Linked DNA regions of Homo sapiens. The protein of the gene in region 2 purifies or fractionates together with the protein of the main gene of each other region. This does not show direct contact. Each region holds a gene or a part of one and is shown on either strand. Other genes may lie near its edges. The genes, in order: PALM2AKAP2 and SYT5.

The links.
Region 1: the proteins of SYT5 (region 2) and PALM2AKAP2 purify together in Homo sapiens (affinity purification with mass spectrometry; 3 studies listed by BioGRID and IntAct, with this or other methods). This does not show direct contact.

What each region holds. Positions count from the first base shown.
Region 1 is NC_000009.12:109,781,313-109,793,488, forward strand, and holds part of PALM2AKAP2 (PALM2-AKAP2 protein isoform 3 (PALM2-AKAP2)), read left to right. Parts: intron 1-12,176. UniProt on the Homo sapiens protein: Binds to regulatory subunit (RII) of protein kinase A. May be involved in establishing polarity in signaling systems or in integrating PKA-RII isoforms with downstream effectors to capture, amplify and focus diffuse, trans-cellular signals carried by cAMP.
Region 2 is NC_000019.10:55,175,654-55,186,478, forward strand, and holds the start of SYT5 (synaptotagmin-5), read right to left. Parts: upstream 4,637-10,825; 5' UTR 4,464-4,636; exon of another isoform or gene 4,311-4,463; intron 3,696-4,310; exon of another isoform or gene 3,553-3,695; coding exon of another isoform or gene 3,389-3,552; coding exon 3,310-3,388; intron 2,716-3,309; coding exon 2,543-2,715; intron 472-2,542; coding exon 352-471; intron 224-351; coding exon 56-223; intron 1-55. Other genes in the region: PTPRH (receptor-type tyrosine-protein phosphatase H), read right to left, coding at 6,101-6,250, 6,363-6,498, 9,849-10,009, 10,209-10,331, 10,572-10,706, 10,811-10,825. UniProt on the Homo sapiens protein: May be involved in Ca(2+)-dependent exocytosis of secretory vesicles through Ca(2+) and phospholipid binding to the C2 domain or may serve as Ca(2+) sensors in the process of vesicular trafficking and exocytosis.

The DNA.
Region 1 (12,176 bases), on a different chromosome or scaffold from region 2:
GTATTTTTACTGGAGCCACCACAGCTGGATTATATATTTCCTTCGAGGATGAGGGAATGATTACTGCTGCCGTATGAAATAGTAACAATTAAAAAAGAAGGTCCGTTAACATATTGGCATAAAAGAATCTCCAGACATTCTTCCACCTAAATACATTTGTGTTTTTCAGTTCGGAAGTTCTCTGGAAACACATATAAATTTGTTGGAGAAATAGTGTGTAATGTTTTGGAACCAAAGTATATTAAAGCGTTTTCCAAAACCTTTTTGGACAGATTCTTCATTGGGAAAATGCACACAGACCCTTCCTTTTTTAGAAGCATTTGACATGGTCTCCAAGGCTCTGAGACCCTCTTTCTCAAACGCCTCAAATCTGAAATGTCTTGGAGACTTCACCACTGAAGTGAGAGAGATGTTTGCTGGCAATATTGAAATGCCATGGTTTGCCTATTAGGTAATCTTTGAACGTGGTGCTCTGAACTCAGAAAGGTTGTTTTTTTCTTCTTTCTCTTTCCCCCTGTGCATGTGTATTTTGATGGTTTGTGAAGTTATTTGTGGTTTCTAAAGTTGGTGGCAAGGCAGCATGGCCAGTGTGTCATGAACTTGATAAGAATGGTGATATTGAGTTAATGGTGCCATGTAGCTGGTGGGTGTTTTGTGTGAACTGGATAATAGGCTGCTTTAACTGTTGATGCAGTGGCTGTTCCCATTGGCTGCTGCTGAAGGCTTCCAACAGTTGTCACATTTTCTGCCTTTGCACAACCAGCTTTACTGGATGCCTGAGGAACAGCTGAACTCCATGAAAGGACTTGCTTTCCAAACATGGAGCCAGTAGCTGCTAACACTGGGGTACCCTTTTCCAAGTGCGGTTGAGTAATCCCAGCAGAGGCCAAGTCGATTTTCCAAGAAAGATCTAGGCAAATCTTTGGGAATTCTCTTGAGCATATAAGAATACACACAAATACTCACTTGTGCCTCTTCAGTTATTGAAGAATTGAGTTTGTCCTGTGTATCTGGGGAGCTGTTGATTATTCTCATGAATGTGCACCTAATACAGTCTGCCCTCCCTATTCATGGGTTCCATATCCACGCCTTCAGTCAATCTTGGATTGAAACTATTGGAAAAAATAATAGATAGCTGAGTCTGTACTGAACATGTACAGACTTTTTCTTGTCACCATTCCCTAAATAATACAGTATAATCAACTGTTTACGTCGCATTTACAGTGTATTAGGTATTATAAATAATCTGAAAATGATTAATGTATGTGGGAGGATGTGAGTAGGTTATATGCAAATACCATGCTATTTTATAGGGACTTGAGCATCCTTTGATTTTGGTATCCAAGGGGGTCCTGAAACCAATTCTCTGAGGATACTGAGGGATGACTGTATGATGTTGTCAGGACAGATTTGCTAACAGCGTGTGTTTGTTTGTGTGTGTGTGTGTGTGTGTGTGTGTGTGTGTATGTGTGTGTGAGAGAGAGAGCCAATTAAGAGACAGAGGGAGTTGGGTGGGGGGACTTATGGCCACATCGGTAAATGGTTTTATGCTATGCTTTGGTCTAGTGCCTACTCTTCTGAATTCTGCAAACCCTGACTCTCTCATCACTTTCCTGGAGTTCTCAGGGGACCCTGAGGAGATCACAAGCCTGCCCCCAGAACCTAGCACTCCTGAAGTCTCTCTGGAGATGTGAGGGAAGAAGACAATAGGTCCTCACATCTTCACTTACTTGGGCTTCTCTCTCAGAGGCAGAGAATCGACTGGGATTCCAGTCTGCAGGGCCTTGGGCAGTCTTTAGTCTGGGTCTCAGCTCCTTCATCTGTAGAATGGGTTCATGAGTTCTACCTCCTGGGCTGGTTGTAAGGTTTAGTTAGGATGGAGGTGAAGCACCTGGCAGGTAGCTGTCATTGGATGGTGTTGAGCAGAGCCCTTAGCTTTTGTCTGTATTGCTGTCTTGTCCTGTGGGGGGTCAGAAGCAACATCTCTGAAGTGGAATGTGTATTAATGACTTTTTTTTTTTTTTAGACAGAGTCTCACTCTGTCACCCAGGCTGGAGTGCTGCCATGACAGCTCGCTGCATCCTGAAACCATCCTCCCACCTCAGCCTCCCCAGTAGCTGGGATTACAGGCATGTGCCACCATGCCCAGCTAATTTTTAAATTTTTTGTAGAGATGGGGTTTCGCCATGTTGCCCAGGCTGGTCTGGAACTCCTGACCTCATGTGATCCTCCCACCTCTGCCTCCCAAAGCACTGAGTTTAGAGACATGAGCCACTATACTTGGTCTGAACAGCTCTTTTTTAATCCCTTCCTTCAACTGACTGAAAGTCAGGGCCCTGCCCAGCATCACTTTCTCTAACTGCTTTAGACAGAGGCAGAGATATGACTTGAGGATTCATTCATCCATTTGTTCAGTAGGTATTTACAGATTGCCTCCTCTGGGAAGGTATTGGCAACACTGAAAAGTTGGTGTCCCCAGGTTTCAGCTGCCTGAGGCTGAAACCTTTATTTCACCTTTTGCACATAATTTCTTGAAGGACAGATGTCCTGATACCTAAGATGCTTGTCACATGAACATCTGTGGAATATCCGCCCCCACCAACAAAACTGAATTAAATACTTAGAAACTACAGTGCTTTAATGGAATCTTCCATTTGGATCCAGGAACTAATCAATGAGAAAAGATGACTCTTATCCTAATTTCTGCCAAAAGAAGAGCAAGTCCATCTTTGACAATGATCTCTACACTCACATGCTCCTTTCTTCTGTAGGGATACTCCCCAAACTTTACATTTAGAACATGGTAAAAAGCCTCTGAAACAGCATGAGTGAGAATGGTAATCCCAGGGACTAATAACAACAATTGCCATTTATTGAATATTGTTCATTCAGAAAGGCACGGTGTGAAATACTTTTTGTTTTTCACCTAACGTTATTTATAGTCTAATGGAAGAAATAGAAAAGCACATAAGCAGTTACTATCCAGGAGTACTATGAAAATGAGCATCCAGGAGGAACATGTAAACCAATCTCAGAGTTGTGAAACAATTCCCCAAAAAGAAGACATTAGAGTAAGTCCTGAAAATTGGGTAAAATAAAATATAAAATAACATCATAACCTTCCCAATTACCAGGAGGCATTTGTTTATTCGTTATTTGATTATTATTTATTCAGGACATTTAGTGTGAGAAAGGGAAAGGCAAAAGCATGAAGAAGTTAAGTCAGTAGCTAAAGACACAAACTCAGAGTGAACACTGAAATGCTTTTCAGCATGTATTATCTCATTGAATCCTAATAAGAAGCTTATGAGGTAGGCACTACAGTATTACTCATATTTTATAGGTGAGGAGGTTCTAGAACTGGTCTAACATTAAACTGATAGTATCAAAGCCAGGATTTGAATGCTGCCCGCAGCAGGCCATTGGAGCCTTTGCTTTGACTGCTGCCCTGAGCTGCCACCCAAGATGGCGGCAGCGTCTCGCACTTTTCCCATGAGCACACTGTGCAGGTGGTCTCAGCAGCCTGAGTGTGAGCCACAGACTGATTCCATTGCAATGGGAAAGCTTGAGACAAGCCAGGAGGCCTACCTCCTTTTGAGAGTCTTTCAAGCCTGGATTCAGTGCATAGAAATACCCAACATAAAATTTAATGGAACGAGTAACATTCCCATGGGGAAGAAGCTGTTGTGTCTCAGTGGAAACTAACCTTGTGGGAGGGTGCTGTTATGTCTGCACATTGGAGAGGAAGATAGTTTTCTTTGGGCATGAGTGAAAATAAGTAAATGTTATATAAATTGTCTTGGGTGAAACTCCTAAGAGCCACGTGGACAAGGCTCAGGCTACACCAGGGACCAGCATGAGTATGTTTATATATGTGCGGAAATAGGAAATGCTAATCTAACCTATGCTGTTCTTTAGGGAATTTTGTCATTTAATTAGAACCCACTCTGTGAAGTAATAAAAATGATCTTTGCATTTGTGCAGTACTTTATAATTTATGAAAACCTTGTATATGCTACCTTCTTCCTGAGGTGTGTAGAGCAAATCTTATACGCTTTACAGGTGAGTATTCAGAGCTATCCAAGCTTACACAGATAGAGGTGGAAGAGTTGTAGTAAATCCCAGCCTCTCCTGACTCCCAATTCTTGTATTAGTCCGTTTTCACCGTGCTGATAAAGACATACCCGAGACTGGGTAATTTATAAGGAAAAAGAGGTTTAATGGACTTATAGTTCCACGTGGCTGGGGAGGCCTCACAATCATGGCAGAAGGTGAAAGGCACATCTCACATGGCAACAGACTGGAAATGAGAGCTTGTGCAGGGAAACTCCCCTTTATAAAACCATCAGATCTCGTGAGACTGATTCACTATCACAAGAACAGCATGGGAAAGACATGTCCCCGTGATTCAATTACCTCCTACCATGTCCCTCCCACAACACGTGGGAATTCAAGATGAGATTTGGGTGGGGACACAGCAAAACCGTATCACTTGTGTTAGTGGTACATCCAGCCTTGGAAGGGTGCTTTGATACGGGCTGAAACTGCAACTAAGATCCTGCTGGACTAAAATCTTCTGGCTGGGAGGAGAGGAGTGAGCTTGGATGTGTCTCTATGGAATATGCCCTTGTTAGGATTTCACTTTCGGCCTCTTTCATTCTTGAAATTCTCACCAAGGGGTCAGCTAGTGAGTTTATGGCTTTCATCTGATTCTATTCTCAGTCCTGCATAGACCTGGGTATACGCTGTTGGCCTAGGCTGGCTGTGCCGTGGGCTTACAGAGAAGTGCTCATTGGCTTTTCGTTGGATTCGCCTCTCCATGCCTTTTCTTGCCTGGGAGCATTACAGCCTTGAGTACCAGGCTTGGAGTGTGGGGCCAGTGGCCAAGGAGGCCACCACCCTGCTTTTGGTCCAGGCCTTTTAGGCCGACCTGCACAGCATGGGCAAAAAGTCCTTGCAATGATTTACATACTATCCAGTCCAGCTTCCCAAGGATCCCTCAGAGGGGTTAGAGACTCAAACCCAAGCCCTGTAGAAACAGGCACTGTGATTCATGTGGGGACCATCCCCATCCATGTTCCTTGTGGACTTGTGTTATTGGTATGCAGCTGTCAGAGAACTGGAGAATTTAAGATCCTGGTCATTCATCTGTTATCTTATATCTCAGAGATGCAGATGACACCCTGCTTCTAAAATTCCATGTTAAGGCCTAAAAAATCATTTGCGTGGTATATTGGTGCTGAGGAAGGGTTCAACTTGGCTGAGTCTGTGAAGCTGCCCACTGGATAGGTGACACTTTGGGCCCATGCAGGGTCATTGCTGTGTCTGGGAGTGCCAAGGCAGGCCTTACCCAGCATGCATAAGGGTCACACACCTCCCTGCTACTTATTTGTACCTCTGAGTATTTCAGTCTTCAGCTTATTGGGACAAAGAGCAGCTACTCTGACAAACTTTAAAATGCTCTGAGAAATAGAGCAGTTATCATGGAAAAAAAAAGTCATCATAGAAAAAGCTAAGTGAGGGGGGTTGTGGGTTATAGTTTGTCAATATTTAAAGGAAAACCAGGGCCCAGTAGAATTGTTTCTATATTTCTTTGGGGGCTACTCAATGCTTTGGGGTCACTGCTGGCCCCTTTGAACTCTCCACATTTCACCACTGATCCCATTTGGGAATGTTGATGAACTTGCTTGGCAGTAAGAGTTGGTCATTCTGTGGCATGAAATTGACTGAGACAGCAGATGGACATTGATGCACAGAGACGGTGGTCCCAAGGGCTGTCATTGTGGTGGGGTAGTTACCAGCATGGATTTTGGTGTCAGGAAGACCTGGCGCAAGTCCTGGCCTTTCCGTTGGTATCTGTATGATGTCACTGTACCTTGGTTTCCTCACCTGTAAGATGGGGCTAATGATCATACCCACTTCAGTGTCTTGTTGTGATGGTTCTTTTAGAGGTTTCTTGGGAAATGCTCAGAGACAGCATGCATTAAGCACTCACAAACTTTCCTATTTATAATAAGCAAACCAACAAATCATAACTTATGCATCTTTAAACAGAAAGTGAACACAAAGAGTGAAAGGAGAATTTTGTTAGCCACAGCATTTTTGTCAAACTAGGAAATTAGATAAATACTAGGAAATCAGATAAATGTTGTAACTCCTGAGTTTTCAATGCATGAAGATAGTATTAATAATAAAAAATGGATTATTTGTAGTAAGCAGGAGTAGTAAACTCAACAGGTCAGGGGGCCAGCATGCAATGTAAATGAGGGACACAGATTGAGTCGAAAGTATTGGTCCCTAGAGAGCAGATGCCACCTCTCAGTTAAGATGCAGTTAATTTATGCCTTGTGAGAACGTGGGTCTTATGTTGTTACATCAACTCATTTTCAAGAGAAGCCAGAAATCTGATTTTTAACATGTGAGATCTCCCACTTAAAAAAGAACAGTATTAACTAGTTTAAAAACTTTAAAAAGATTGGCAGTCACAACACAATTCCTTTTGATCAAGAGGCCGACATTTTGTGACCTTTAGATATAGACAGAGCTTTGAACTTTACAGGATGCTTTCCTTATGCATTGATTTATTTGGATTTCATAAGGATACTGTGAAGTAAGCCTATCAGCACCCCTGAGATATTTCATAATGTTGTAATATCGGGTTGCATTTTCACCAGAGCTTTGTGAGTTTGGTGTCCAGATGTTTGGATCATTGGATAAATGGTGCTTATTTGCGATATCTTTTGACATTAAATGAGCCCTTGCAAATCACTGACATTATTGAAACTCAGAATACTCACATCTAGATAGGTAATTGCTCTCTAACTCAACCAAAACAAATCTAAACCACATCAAGTCAGCACCTTAATTTGGGAAATTCCTCTTATTAGAAAAGAATCTTTAAGAACCTATACTCAAGGTATGCAAATCTGAAATGCAAACCTGATATGAAGCCCAAGCCTAACTCATGTCAGTCAGGATGTTTGAGTTGATCCTGATTTATTATTAGCCTCAAGTAATGGACATTGTAGGGAGATTCTGCTGGGCTCAGGACTCATAGTAGCAGCAACTGCCATTTGACCGATGTTTTTGTCATATATGGTATAGAACAGTAATTCTCAAACGTTAGTGCATTAGGATCACCTGGAGGGTTCCTTAAAACACAGATTGCAAGAGCACACTCCCAGAGTGTCTAATTCTGTAGGTCTAGGGTGATGTGGCCTGAGAATTTGTATTTCTAAGAAGTTCCCAGCTGCAACTGCTATTCTGGGGAACACACTTTGAAAACGACTGGTGAAGTGTAGGAGATCAATAGTAAAGGAAGATTATGACCTGGGTCCTGATGTGCATCACATGCCCATTGTGATATGCCCAGGAGTTTGTGTGGTGTGTATATTCTGAAGAGGTGAAATAGAATAAAAGGCCAAATTTAGTCTTGATTAATGAGAGCCTTAAACATAGCCCAGTTTGGAAGTCATGCAAGCCGGGTGCGGTGGCGCACTCCCATAGTCCCAGCTACTTGGGAGGCTGAGGTGGGAAGATCGCTTAAGCCCAGGAGTTCAAGGCTGCAGTGAGCTATGATCACTGCCACTGCACTCCAGACTGGGCAAGAGTGACACCCTGTGTAACTGTGTCCTTCTCACATTACACTGGCTAATCAAGAAGAGGTCTTTGCTTATCTCGGGAACTTGCTTTAATCTATTTAAATAAAGTGAGATATCTGTTGGTTACTTGACAACACCGGTTTGGAAGGTTTGCCCAGGATTGGCTGGGCAGGTTGAGAGAGTTTGCCTGGGATTGACTGACTGAAACTATGGGCTACAAAATTCCCTTGGGGAGGCCTTAGAGGACACCTCAGTGAGATAAGAAGTCATGCAGTAGAGAAGATATCCAGCAACACCATGACAGCCCCATTGAGAGAGGCTTGCCATACATATGATGGTGTATAGATGAAGACATCAAATAGCAGATCAGCCCATCAAGCCTGGTGGCCCCTTCTCCAGCCTGCAGGTGCTAATTCGCGATGTGATTGCTTCTCACGTGGGCAACTCCAATAGGATGCCAGGAGAAGCAGCAACTGATGTTCATTTACTTAATGATGGTTAATATTTTATGAAGCCAGTCTGTGTATATGCAAGTATGACTTGTTATTGGCATATCAAGGACAAGTTTATTCTTCCAAGGATGTCATGCAGGCTTCCCTCACTTGTCTTTGTACCATGCATTTTTTGAGCTAACCCTTCATTTTTGGAAGGATTCTGCCTCACCGGATCTCTTGTATATCTTAAAACACAAAGCACAGAGGCTGCACTGTACAGGATGAGGCCTAAGAGAACGTGGAGACTGTAGGGGATGGGCCACACAGCATGGCGGAGTTTGTAGAGGAAAGGTTGCTCATAAGTGCTCTGGGTTTGGGAGAAGACCACACAGCTGAGATCTATTTCTGACAGGAAATGCCGGCAGGAGCAGAGGGTGGTGTGGGGCAGTGCGTGTTGGAGCTACAGTGCCCTTGGTTAATTATTATCTCAGTATTTCTCATTAGTCTCTTGTTGAATTAAAATGCTCAAAAGGAGATTATTAAATACACACAGAAAGGGAGACAGACTGACAGACACAGAGACAAGACTACACCCTATTTACATAATGCTTGAACATATATTAAAAATACTTTGGATTACTCTTTGACCCTAGTATCACTGTTTCTATAGGATCATATAAGTTTAGCTAGAAGAAAAGAATAGAGAATCTGTACCTTTCTTTTGCATAAGATCGAAGGGGAAAGAAAAGCCATGTGAGGCCCAAGATAAAAGCCCCAGCTGTAGATGAAAAAGCTGTGGGCCAGACGTCGGAACACATCTTCCTGTCCATCATTTCCCTTGTGGAAGCCTATTTCATTACCCTGCAGGCTTTTAGGCTCTAGACAGCTTTGCAATACCAAATATCTTGAAGGCATTTGTAAAACCTACTCTTACTTTTTTCCTGGAAAAAAAAAATTATACTGGTTTACTTACTATTCTAGGTGGGTGGGATTTTTCCCCCCTCTGCTAAATTATAACCAGTCATCTAAGTATTCACTTTATTTTTAAATTCAGGGCTGAAACTTAAAACCTTGAGGGTTACCAAAAAATGTTATTCTTAAGAGAAAAACATGCTTGAAAACTTAACCCCTTTGGTGGCAGGCAGGGGATTTTCTTTGTCTGTGTTTGAGTGCTAATGTCGACAACTTTGAGGCCAATAAATACCAAATGGGGCTCTAGGATTTGGGCAACTGTGATAGTGTGTGTGTCCTGCATGTCACATGAGAAAGAGAGAGGCCGGGATTTAAGAAAGGTGCCTCTTGGCTGGGTGGCATGAACTCAGTCAGCTGGCTTTCCCCAGGCACCTGATTGGCCTTAAACACTGAGTTTTTGTGGTGTGACTTGACATACATCTTGGGCTGATATCACGTGCTGTTTCTACTGGGGTGGGAAGTGCTTTGAAAATGTCCTTGCTCCAGTGGAACTGTGAGACATATCTAAAAAGCTTAAGGCTAATATGAGTGATGCTAAAAGGAAGTCCTGCTTATCCAGGTAAGCAAAAGCATACTCTAGGATAGCAGTGCTCCTGTAACCTGCATGGCCTATTTTTCTTTTCCAGGTGGTATGCAGGCAGTCTTGTTCATGAACATTGATGTCTGAGCATGTGTGTTCAAAATTCAGTGTTGTTAATCAAATAAAACTCACCACAAAACCCGAAGGATATTTAACAATAGATGAGATAGGTTTGGCGGAGATGGGTCAGAAGACAGAGGAGGTCCTGGAGGCAGCAGTAGAATGTACTTTCCAATCTTACTGGTGACTAGAGATAAGACACTAGTAGCCTGTTTACTCCCCATCCTTATTTACACTGGAGTGAGAATGATATATGTCAGATCAGTATTGGATGCGATGAGGGAGAATGAAGAGAAAATATTGACTCTGAAAAATACAGACAAGAGGAGGCAAAGTTGAAAGTAATGTAAACTGCTTAATCACCTGCCTTTCTCTCTTTCCACCGTCATCTCTTTCTACTTGACATGTTCCTGCTTTTGCCTCTGGATGGTTCTATCTCTCATCCCCTCTCAGCCTGGGTCCACAGAGAAAAGCAGGAAGCAGCCTGGCATGGCAGTGGAGGGAGCCTTTTCCAGCCTTCCTCCAGCAGAAGTGCGCCCTCTCCCCTATAGGGAGATAGGGCACCCCAGGCTTCAGAAAGCAAGGGAAAGATGGTACTTCATCATGTAGCTTTTCTTAAGGGGTTGGAGGGAAGGGCTCCCAGTTCCGGAGAGGGTCCATGTGCCAGCCACCCTGCTGAATGCCTTATGTTAGGGGGGTGAGATCTCAGATGTGCACAGGTACCAGGTTGACTTGGCTGAGCTTTTGGGACTGTGGTAGCCAAGAGAGGGCAGACTCCTGAGGGGACAGAGAGTGCTCAACTCCAACTGATGGGCACTGTGTGGGAATTTGAGCCCAGGGTCTCCTGCTTTTCCAAGAGAACCTGGAAATCCAATTTTGAAGGAAGTCTGTTGATGTTTAAATGCTCACAACAGTTTAAATACTGTATGGGCCAAACCAAACATAACACAGATTTTAACACAGTGTAGGCTGGATTTGTTCCCTGTCTCAATGACCCTCCCCCTCTACCCCCAGCCTGGGCCACCAGTTTTCCACGTCTGCATGTCACAACCTATTTTATTTAATTACAAAACCAATAGTATGTGGGAATGGGGGCTGGGGGGTTGGTACAGTATAAAGCTATGTGAGTTGTAGATACACTTATGTATGTTGGGCACCTTGGTGGGATCCATACCCTATAAGAAAACCATAGTCTTGGGTCAGAGTCAGGGCTGCTACTTAAATCAGTTCCTTATCCAGCATGCTGGATGAACTCATCAGTTCTCTGTAAGAAGTAAAAACTACAAGCACTCTTTAAAAAAAATGAAAATGAATGAAGAGAAAAATAGACTTATTAAATTCTTTAATTTGGAAGACTGGGTCTCGCTATGTTGCTCAGGTTGGTCCTGAACTCTTGGGCTCAAGCGATCCTTCCACCTCAGCTTCCTAAGTAGCTGGGATTATAGGCATGTGCCATTGCTCCCAGCACTAAAATTGACTTTCTTGATGTACAGCTCTCTCAATTTGAACACATGCGTAGATTTGTGCAATCACTGGTATACTCAGGCAACAGAACAGTTCCATCACCCCCAAAAGTCTCCCAGGAAGGCTGATTTTAAAACTCTAACTGGAATCTAAGTCATTCTGCTTGGGGCTACCTTATACCCTGACTTTGAAGACCCTAAAAATCAGTTGAGGGTGGGAGGGTTGACCAGAACATGAAACTTGGGTTCCCAGCCATTGGTGGGGAACTGTTTCATAATGAGCACCCTACCATACCTATATAACAAGTTTTTGCTTCTTCCTAATACATACCTTCTGCTCCAGCCTGGGTCGTCTTTTCACTATCCCCTACTAGGGTTGTTCCATTTAGCAACTAAATGTATAGGATGCCCAGTGATTCCATGGGGACATATTTATATTAAAATATTATTTGTTGTTGATCTGAAATTCACATTTAACAGGACATTCCATATTTTATCTGGCAAGCCCATCCTCTTCACATTCATGCCACATTCTCATGTAAGTTCAAAACCTACTTTCTCTGTGTTTCACCAAAGGGTGAAAATACTCTTTGAAAATACTCTTTGATTTTATTACACTTAATCTTAGCCAAAGGCCAAGAAGCGATTGTATGCTTTGATTTTAAATAGTAGCATGTTTATAGGGAGATAGGGCAAGTGTTGGAAGGATAAGAGTGCTTTCTATACACATAAATGGATTTTCAAGAAATGTTTTGTGACCAACTGGTTTTATCCTTTCCAGAGAACAAGAAATGATCTAATATGTGCTCAAGGAAGGAGGACAACTGGATTTCAGAAATTGGTTCATGTTACAGCCCCTCCTCTACCCTTTTTCTCTGGCCTGACCTTTGAATAATATAAGTCTGAAAAGACTAAACAAAGAGATTGCTCAAACTGGATGAGTTTAAAAATAACATTGGAATGCTAGCCTTCAGCAAGCCATATATCTTATACTGCACTGAGCAGGACAGTGCCCTGTGGTGGGTAGAAGATGAGTCACACAGTGATCACAACCAGATCCTTCCCA
Region 2 (10,825 bases):
GTTCCAGGGACTGGGCACAGGCTATGGAACACGGGGCCTGAAGGCAGGAGCTCACCTTGAAGGCGAAGGTCTCCCCAAAGTGAGGGTTCAGCGTCTGCCGATGCACCTTGGTCTCGTACCGCCTCCGTTTGTCCGGCAGCAGGTAGACCCGCACATAGGGGTCCGAGGAGCCACCAAGATCCAAGGCTGCCAATCCCATTGCTTGCAGAATGCCCACCAGCAGCTGCAGGGCCCAGGCACAGTGGGGGAGGTGGGGAACACTAGTCTTAGCCTCCCTTCCATGGCTCCTTTCAGAAGGGGTTGGAACCCCCGGGATCCTCCCTCCAAAGCTTCCCCTTCCTCCACACCCACCTGGCCACTCTGGAAGTCATAATCCAGGGAGTACTGCAGTCGTCCTAGCTCATGCTTGTCTGCCACCTGCTGCCCTGGCCCGGATGGTGCTGGCTCCAGCTCCTCTACTTCTGGCTGCACCTTAAGGAGCCAGGGGTAAGGGTGGGTGAAGTCTTCCCCTGATAGCAGTATCCATCAGGCTCAGAAGCCAAGGGAGGCTCACAGGTCCCTTGGGCTATACCTGAGCTCTCACAGGCTAAGCAGATTCAGTATTTGACTAGTGCTGTCTGCCACAGGCAGGAAATAGACGTGGTAACACAGATGCAGTATGTTTGTGAAGGTTTGATTAGTGGTGTCTGCTATGGGCAGGAACTAGACATGTGCTTGTCATGCTTAGATTAAAACAAGTGCTGATAGTGTCCCATTGCCCACAGGAATAATGCAGGTTTTATTTCACATGCTAATGGATGTACTGGGGTGCTAGTCCAAACTGCCATGTTTACTTGTGATCTTAGCACAGCAAAACATGGAGGAGAAATGGCATATTTACTGTGTACTTGCCATTCTAAAGTTGAATGAAAAAGCAGAAGGTGTCTCCTTAACCTAGGCCAGCAATTCTTAAAATTCAATGTGAACCTGAATTCCCCTGAATCCTGTGGCAAAATGTCTGAGGTCACCTCTTCAGGGATTCTGACTTGATAGGTCAGGTGCTAGTGCCAGAATTTGCATTTCAACAAGTACCCAGTGTGATTCTGCTGCAGACGGTCTTTGAACATCACTGGTTTAAGGGACAGGGATGGGGCTGGACACCAGGACCCTAAATAGCATCCTTTACGGATGCTAATTGAACAGCTCCTTATTGAGAAGGAAGGAGGGGAAATACCAAGTTAGTGACCACAGACTTGAGGCTCAGAGAGGGACAGTGAGTTCTCCAAGGTCACACAACCAGGAAATGGTCCTTCTTGGTTGGAAACCTAGGGCTGTCTGGCTCCCAGGCAACCACTGCACTCTGCACTGAGAGACTTAATTTTCAGACCCTGCAGTGACCACTTTCCATTCCAACGGCCTCATCCAATGCAAATGTCTTTTATCCTCTCCAGGCTGCTGCTGCACTGGCCTCGTCCCTGGATCCCTCGCCGCAGATCTGTCCTACACAGGGTTCCAGAGGAGTCATCCTAACACCATCTGACCCTGTCCCTCTCATGCTCAAAACATATTTGTAGCCTTCATCACCTTCATGACATGGATACTGCTGAGTTCTCCAGACACTTCACTCCAGAGTGCAGCTATTGTGAGAAATGACTCTTTGTTCCCCAAATAAGCCTCAGAATCTGGATATGGGGCCTGAATCTGGATATGGGGCCTCAACACATGCTCCAACTTGGACTAGAATGTCCTTCTCTCTGGTCTCAGTTAACTCTGTCCCTCAGGTCTCAGTGCAGAAGTCACCTCCACCACGAAGCCTCCTCTGTCTGACCCTCTGTTTTAAACTTTTTCCTACTGTAAATATGTCCCATTTTCTGAAAAAAATCAGCATATTTTAAAGTATTCTGGCACAAAGCTGGTTTTCAGCTTTCAGAGCCATTTATTTATTTATCTATTTATTGGAGACAGAGTCTCGCTCTGTCACCCAGGCTGGAGTGCAGTGGCGCGATCACAGCTCACTGCAGCCTCCACCTCCCGGTTTCAGTGCCTCAGCCTCTCGAGTAGCTGGGATTATACCACACCACCATGGCTGGCTTTTGTATTTTTAGTAGAGACAGGGTTTCATCATGTTGCCCAGGCTAGTCTTGAATTCATGACCTCAGGCAATCTGTCCACCTCAGCCTCCCAAGTGCTAGGATTACAGGCGTGAGCCACCGCACCCGGCCCAGAGCCAAATATTTATATGTTTCTGTAGGTTTCTATACAGTGGGATGCCTTTTCTGTGCTCCTATGAGACCCTGTAGTATGGCACATATTACCCTGTGTGGTGAGTGTCTGTGTCAGTGCCTGACTCTCCCACCAGACTGGGAAGTTCTTGGGAATAGCAACTAGTTCTGTTCCATCTCTGGGTCCCCAGAGTCCAGTTGAGGGCTAGACACACAGGGAGGATGAGCCAGTAAGGTGGGTTCCTATAGGACAGAAGGGAGCAGGGACTGGGACCAGCTGGGCCATTGAGAGGAGCAGGGTGCGGGAAGGGGCCAGGTGGAGGGGCTGGGCTGGGCCACACCTTGTCTATGTAACTCTGGCCCAGCCCCTTCACTTCCTGAAGGTGGACCTGGGCTTGGGCCTGGCTCTTCTTGCCTGTCCGCCTCCGACAGCTCTTCCGGTAGAGACAGAAACAGCAGCTGAAGATGAGGAGGCCTGAGACCAGCACGATGGTGGCCAGGGCCCAGGGGGGCACTGCAGAGGGGTGGAGACAACACACATTGAGGCCTGGGCAGCACGCAGGCTGATTCAGTCCTGATTACACGTGGAAGCTGGAATGCTGGCCTCCTTTTCCCTCCAGCCATTTTCATTGCATTTCTTCCTGTGTTTTTCTTCCACCTAATGTGGCCTATAGAGAGATTCGATGCCCCAACCCAGGCTGACACCATCTGGATTTGCTTGCTTGTTAGTTCTGCCTTTCCTTACCCGACCCCGCCCCCCATTTCTGCTCAACTCCTGATGCTTTTACAAGAAGCCCTGCTCCTCATCGGGCCTGTTTCCTTATCTGTAAAAGAAGAGCTAGGTGGACCTTCCAATTCTAAGATCCCATTCCATGCAACACCCCTTGATCCGGTTTCGATTTTTTTTTTTTTTTTTTTTTTTTTTTTTTTGCAAATCTGTTCCTTCCTTTTACCCCATTTCGTTCGCATTCCAGTCCAGGATGACGACCCGGGATCCCAGCCGGATTTTCCAGCCCGCCTGCCCGAGTACACCCGTCCGAATCCCGCCCCTCGGAATCCTGGCCAGGCTTTCTCTCTGCTCGGCCCCCCACCCCCGGGTCTTGCTCACCTGGGCCGTGGCTGATGCGACTGGAGTCGGGAGGCGTGTCGGGCGATGGAGGCCCCGGGGTTGGGGGCTCCGGGAACATGGTGGCGGGGTCCTGGAGTCTTTTCTGCAGAGACACTCAAGCACCCTAGTCCCCCATTCCCACCCCAGACGTCCTTTGAGCCCCACGCACAACAAAGAACTCCAACTCCCATGAGGCCTTTGCGCGAACAGCCGCGCAGAAACCGGACAGCCACCGCGAGTCATGCTGGGAGTTGTAGTATCAGCCTCCCCGCACTTGAGAGGGGGTGTCCAGGACCTAGTTCCATCCTAAAGGGATACCCTCTTCCTCCACGGCCCCACAGGCATCCCGCTGACTTCTGCCTCGTCCTCGCCCCTCCGCAGGGTCTGAACCGGAAGCGGGCGAAGGCAGACGTGGGAACCAGCAGACCGCGTTGCCCAGAGCAACAGCCGGGCTCCTCTCAAGCGGGGTGAGAGCAAAGCTGGTTGCCCGGGCAACGGGTTGTTGCCAGGACAACGGGCGGGGCTGACGCACAGACGCGGAGTCCCGGCGGGGCAGGCTCGCTCCGGGGCCCACCGGTGCCTGGGAACCCCCCAATAGCCCGACTGGGATCCTGAGGTCCCGCGAGGTGGGGAGCGGGCAGCCTGTGGTCCGAGCGCCCACAGCCGACTGCTCCCTCCGCACCTGGTCCTGGGAGCTGAGACGCAGGTTCCCTCTTCCCTCTCCCCAATTTTGCTGGAGGGCGGGTCGGGGGCTGCCCGGTGCCTGTGCTGAGCCCCCTCATCCTTCTTGGCCTGTTGGTCTCTCCACGCATCCGTGCTGCTCTCGTGACCGCCTCGGTCTCCACGCTGCCTCTTGACCCCACATAGGCGTCTTCCCTGTGTCTGCCTCCCCAACCCGCCTGTCTCTCTTCCCTATCGCCTGGCCTCTGTCTCCAGGGTCTCTCCCTCTCCCCTCCGCCTGCGCCCCACTCCCCGCCCTCGGCTCTTTGTCTTCTCCATACCTGTCTCGCGTCCCCAGATCCCTGTCTCTCCGCTTCAGGCTGCTGCCCTCCCTCTGGTTGTCTCCCCAGTGCCCCAGCCCCCACTCGCACACCCCTTTCCTCTAGGGATGCGGATGCGGATGGGCTGAGGGCGGGGGTCCCAGCAGCTCCTACCTGCTCGGCGGCTGGACGGGACACTCCCGGGAGACGCCGAGGCGCCAGCCCCGCCCGGACCCCACCCCCTGCACGTGGGCGGTGGCGCTGTCCCGGGTGCTGATCGCGGAGCTCTCCGGGGCGGGGGAGCCGCGGAGCGGAGCAGGATCCCGTGCGCGCGTGTGTGCCCGTGTGCGTGTGCGCGCGTGTGTGGTGTGTATTGTGTGTGCCCGTATTTGGTCTCGGGTAGGCGGAAAGCCCTGCCCCGCCCCTCCTCCCGCCTCCACCCGGGAACCTCGATGACGCCCACAGATGTTTATCCTGGTGCTTTAGCATTTTCTGCCTTCTGGTCCAGTCGTTGGCCGTCCAGACCACTCCACTCCTCCCGCCCCAACACACACGACACACACCCTGTATAGCCCAAAGAACGGCATGCCAGGATACTCAGTCCTAGGACCTAGGAGACCCCAGACCCCCATTGGAGACCCAGACTCTGCAGGGTTCAGCATCAAAGTCCCCAGCTATCAGCCCCCAGACATCGCCCTCTAAGTTCCCCTAACACCAGTCCCAGGAGGCGGCCAGTGCGGTGGCTCATACCTGTAACCTCAGCACTTTGGGAGGCCGAAGCAGGAGGAATGCTTGAGCCCAGGAGCTGGAGACCAGCCTGGGCAACATAGCAAAATCCCGTCTCTACAAAAATGAGCCAGCGTGGTGGTGCGCACTTGTGATGGCAGCTACTCTAGAGGCTGAGGTGGGAAGATCACCTGGGCCCAGGAGGTCAAGGCTGCAGTGAGCCACTGCACTCCAGTCTGGGCAACAGAGCAAGACCATGTCTCAAAAACAAAAACAAAAACAGAACAAAACAACAACAACAACAACAGAGAAGAGTAAAAGAAAAGCTCAGAAGGCAAGTCCCCAAGCACCTAGCTCCAGCGAGCCCTGTCCATACTGCCCAGACCCTGGACACAGACGTCTGGACACTGCCTTCTCTGAGAGACTCAACCACCCAAACCTACATTTTTTCATGTGCAAATGTGTGGGTCCCTCTAGTCCCCTCCTGGACGTTCGCCTCGATCCCTAGATACCAGGAACCCATCCCTACTCCCAATCCAATATTATTTCCAGACCCAGAAATCCATGGGACAACTGTCTCTGGGGAGAACAGTGATTTAATAAATTATGGGATAGAAGGAAAAATACATGTGGATGGTGGGGTGCAGAGAGACCTTGGGCACAGGGACTCCCTCCGACCCCAGATTATAGAAGACTGATTTGGTTTCTGAAGTAAAATCAAGGCAGGATCCTTCCTGCCTTTGGTCCTCAAGTAGCCAGAACTCCAGACCCAAATTCCTTCCTGCCTCAGAATCCAGGCCCCAGCCTGTTTCTTTCTGCATCCTGGAAAGACCTAGGGAATCCAAGCTATCATCCCTCTCCTCCTTCAGGGAACCAGGAATCCAGATCCCCAGCTCCCATAGGACTCATCTGAAGCCCACCAGACCACTCTCTCCTGGGGAAACCAGAGTTTGGGATACCAGCCCCCTCCTCCCACAGCACCCAGGAGTCTGGGAGCCCAGCCCTCTGCTCTTCCAGGAATCTGGGCTCAAGTGGGTGTCCAGAGCTTGAGGATGCCTGGGCTGCCGACCCAGCCCCCTCGTCACTTAGACCTCCAACTTGTGGGCCTGGATGGCGGCCACGTTCTCGTAGATGAGGTTTTCGACATCCTCATACGGGACTTCCTTCTCGGCTGGGGCCTGGGCTGACTGTTGGAGGAACCGCAGGATGCACTGATGCAGGAATACGTACTGAGCCTGGGAAGCAGGCACGGGAGTGAGAGGCGTCCCCCCAGGTCTGAGCTGCGTGGAGCCCCAGGGTCCCTCGTCCCACTGCCTCCCGTCCTGTGTTGCTGAGGGACTGCCTCACCTCAGTCTGCACCATCAACGGCCGACTCTCTCTCATCTTCCTTACAAAGCTGAAGGGCCCAAGGAGACCCTCGGACTGCAGCTGCCGGAGCAGGACGTCCAGGGCAATGAGGGTTCCTGTGCGACCCACGCCAGCACTAGGCAGAACAAGGGAAGGGTCAGACCAAGGGGCAGGAGTGTGAGGGTCCGGGGTCATGGCTGATTGGAGGGATCTGTGTTTGAATGATGACAATAACTATGCCTGCTCACACCTGTAATCCCAGCACTTTGGGAGGCTGAGGCCGGTGGATCACCCAAGGTCAGGAGTTCCAGACCAGCCTGGCCAACCTGGCAAAACCGTCTCTTCTAAAAATGCAAAAATTAGCCGGGTATGGTGGCGCATGCCTGTAATCCCAGCTACTTGGGAGGCTGAGGCGAAGAATCGCTTGAACCCAGGAGGTGGAGGTTGCAGTGAGCCAAGATCACACCACTGCACTCCAGCCTGGGCGACAAGAGCAAAACTCCCATCTCAAAAACAACAACAACAACAACAACAAAACTGCCTGGAGTTCCTTCCATCTGTTAGGCTCTGTTCTAAGTGCCTGATGGGCCTTCTTCACTCCTCCCAAACCTAAGAAGTCGGATGTACTAGCTCCATTGTACAAATGGGGAAATGGAGGCTGAGTGAGGTGAAGTCCCATTCCCCAGGCCACTCAGCTAATAAGTGGCAGAGCCGGGGTTCAAATACAGGAAGAGGAACTCTCCAGCCAATCATTTAGTAATTCCTTTAAACACAAAAATTAGTCTTTTGTTTTGTTTGAGACAGGATCTCTCTCTGTCACGAAGGCTGAAGTGCAGTGGCATGATCTCGGCTCACTGCACCCTTGACCTCCTGGGCTCAAGTGATCCTCCTGTCTCAGCCTCCTGAGTAGCTTGGATCACAGGCATGCACCACTGCATCTGACTAACTTATTAACTTTTTAATAGAGACGGGGTCTTGCCATGTTGCCCAGGCTGGTCTCAAACTCCTGGACTCAAGTGATCCTCCCACCTCAGCCCCCCAAAGTGCTGGGATTACAGGCATGAGCTACTGTGCCCAGTGAAAAAATTAGCTATTTTAGGCTGGGCACAGTGGCTCACGCCTGTAATCCCAGCACTTTGGGAGGCTGAGGTGGGTGGATCACGAGGTCAGGAGATTGAGACCATCCTGGCCAATATGGTGAAACCCCGTCTCTACTAAAGTACCAAAAAAAAAAAAAAATTACCCGGGTGTGGTGGCGGGCGCCTGTAGTCCCAGCTACTCGAGAGGCTGAGGCAAGGGAATCACTTGAACCCGGGAGGCGGAGATTGCAGTGAGCCGAGATCACATCACTGCACTCCCAGCCTGGGCGACAGAGCAAGATTCCGTCCCCCACAAAAATAAATAAATAAATAAATTAGCTATTTTAAGCTGGGCGCACTGGCTCACGCCTGTAATCCCAGCACTTTGGGAGGCTGAAGCAGGCGGATCACCGGAGGTCAGGCGTTGGAGACCAGCCTGGCCAACATGAAGAAACCTCATCTCCACTAAAAATACCAAAATTAGCCAGGCGGGGTGGCAGGCACCTGTATTCCCAGCTACTCAAGAGGCTGAGGCAGGAGAATTGCTTGAACTTGGGAGGTGGAGGTTGCAGTGAGCGGAGATCGCACCGTTGCACTCCAGCCTGGGTGACATAGCGAGACTCTGTCTCCACAAAAAAAAATAGCTATTTGAACGTGAGCAATTTGTCACACTCACAACGCTGTGCAGCCCCCACCTCTATCTACTTGCAAAACACTTTCATCACCCCTAAAGCAGACACCACGCCCATTAGGCCGTCTCTCCCTATTGCCTGTCACCCTCCAGGGCCTGGAAGCTACTAATCTCTTCAGTGTCTCTGTTGCTTTGGCTGATCTAGATATGCTTCTGGATATGCACACTAATGGAATGATGTGATGACATCCACTCAGCTCTAAAATGGGGAGGACATTGCCGGGCACAGTGGTTCACGCCTGTAATCCCAGCACTTTGGGAGGCCGAGGTGGTCGGATCACTTGAGGTTGGGAGTTTGAGACCAGCCTGACCAACATGGAGAAACCCCGTGTCTACTAAAAATACAAAATTAGCCGGGCGTGGTGGCACATGCCTGTAATCCCAGCTACTCAGGAGGCTGAGGCAGGAGAATTGCTTGAACCCAGGAGGCAGAGGTTGCAGTGAGCCGAGATCATGCCACTGCACTCCAGCCTGGGCAACAAGAGCGAAACTCTGCCTCCAAAATAAACAAACAAATAAATAAATAAAATAAAATAAAATAAAATGGGGAGGACACCCTTTTGCCATGAGACTGTCATGAGGAGCAGTAGAACTGTGTAAATGTTCACTGTGACTGAAACCAGAGCCCCAGTCTCAGGGGCTGTTACTCTTCCTCATCTCCCTAATAGTTACCGTTAGGTGAAATCTGACCTACGGGACTTCAGCATAAATATCAGGAAAGGGTCAGGTGCGGTGGCTCACGCCTGTCATCTCAGCACTTTGGGAGGCAGAGGCAGACGGATCACGAGGTCAGGAGTTCGAGACCAGCCTGGCCAACATGGTGAAACCCCATCTCTACTAAAAATACAAAAATTAGCTGGGTGTGGTGGTGAGCAGCTGTAATCCCAGCTACTCGGGAGGCTGAGACAGGAGAATTGCTTGAACTCGGGAGGCAGAGGTTGCAGTGAGCTGAGATTGCGCCATTGCACTCCACCCTGGGCGACAGGGAGAGACTCCATCTCAAATAAAATAAAATAAAATAATAAAATAAAATAAAATAAATAAAATAAAATAAATATCAGGGAAGCAGTTGATGGGGGAGGCCCTGCACTCCAGCACAGGGAAGTGTCTCCAGTGTTTCTCAGAATCTGTGGCCACATCCCCATCCTGTGGCTTCATCCTTTCTCCCTTCTCTTCTGCATTCAACCTTCTCTGCCTTTACCTTTTCATCTTTCTTTTTTTCCTTTTTTTTTTAATCGAGACAGAGTCACCCAGGCTGGAGTGCAGTGGTGCGACCTCAGCTCACTGCAACCTCTGCCTCCCGGGTTCAAGTGATTCTCCTGCCTCAGCCTCCTGAGTAGCTGGGATTACAGGTGCCCGCCACGACACCCGGCTAATTTTTGTATGTTTAGTAGAGACAAGGTTTGTATGTTGGCCAAGCTGTTCTCAGACTCCTGAACTCAAGTGATCCACCCGCCTTGGCCTCCCAAAGTGCTAGGATTTACAGGCATGAGCCACCGCTCCTGGCCTGCCTTTTCATCTTTCGTTCCCATCTTTTCATCCTTATCCCCTTTCTTTTCTTAATCTGCTTCACGCCCCCCTTTATCTTCCACATCCACCTCCTCCTTCTCTCCCTCTTCACCTCCCCTGTACGTTCCCAGGGTCCCGTCTAACACAACTGTCTGAGCCCCAAGGGAGCGGTTCTCTCAAGGGAGAGGGTCCTGGGCTGGTCCCCACCTGCAGTGCACAATGGGTGGGCCTCCCTCCATGGTCTGATCCAGCCACTGCCGAAGCATCCTCCAGAAAGCCAGCAAGGTGTCTGGGGAGGAGGGAACGCCGTGATCCGGCCAGGCCTGGTAGTGGAATTGGCGCACAGACAGTGTCTTCTGCTCCTCCACCTGGAAGGAGGGAGCACTCACAGGCTCTGGAGATGAATGTAGGGAGGACCTGGCTTCTAGCACCAGGAGCGGGTTCCCTGGGGCACACTGCAGCTCCTCAGAGGAGTGGGTGGAAGGTTGGAGTTGGTGGAGGGTCCTGGATGCATGGCATATGTCACAGGGGAAGGCTGAGGGCCAGGACGGGGCTGGACACACGCACCTGGAGGAGCAGCAGTTCCCGCACCGTCCAGTTCTCCATCACTTCCTCACCTACCAGGGTTACCCGCAGGTGCCCATGGGTGCAGGGCTGCGAGTCCAGAGGCCAGTAATGCTCACACTTCACCTGGGGGAGGAGGAGGGGTCAGAGAACACAACTCCTCTTACCCAGGTCTGTGGGGTCTGCTTTAGGCCCCAAATGTGAACCAGCAGATGGGCTGGGGGGAGAGTGGGGAACAGGTCTACACTGAAGACGCCTGGGGTTACCCTGGAGGAATCCGTAAGGTCTGGGTGTGGGGTCTACATTGGATGAGTGTTCGGGGCGGGGTCCTGCACCCAGTCAGCACCCAGGACTCAGATCTCTCACCCGGCCGGCCTCCATGCAGTTGGTCAGCATGACCAGGGTGTGGCTCTGCTGTTCCCACACCAGGCGCCAGAAGTCACCCACTGTCTGTGGCAGGGGACCCTGGGTTGCAATGAACTCCTGGGGGCTCCAGAGACCCTGGTTGAGGAAGGCAGGCGGGTCAGGGGGGCCTTTAGTTGATCCCCGAGCTCTTATCTCTCCAGGCGTGCTGGGCACCCTTTCAATCCCAACCACGACCTTACGGGCATGAAGCTGGC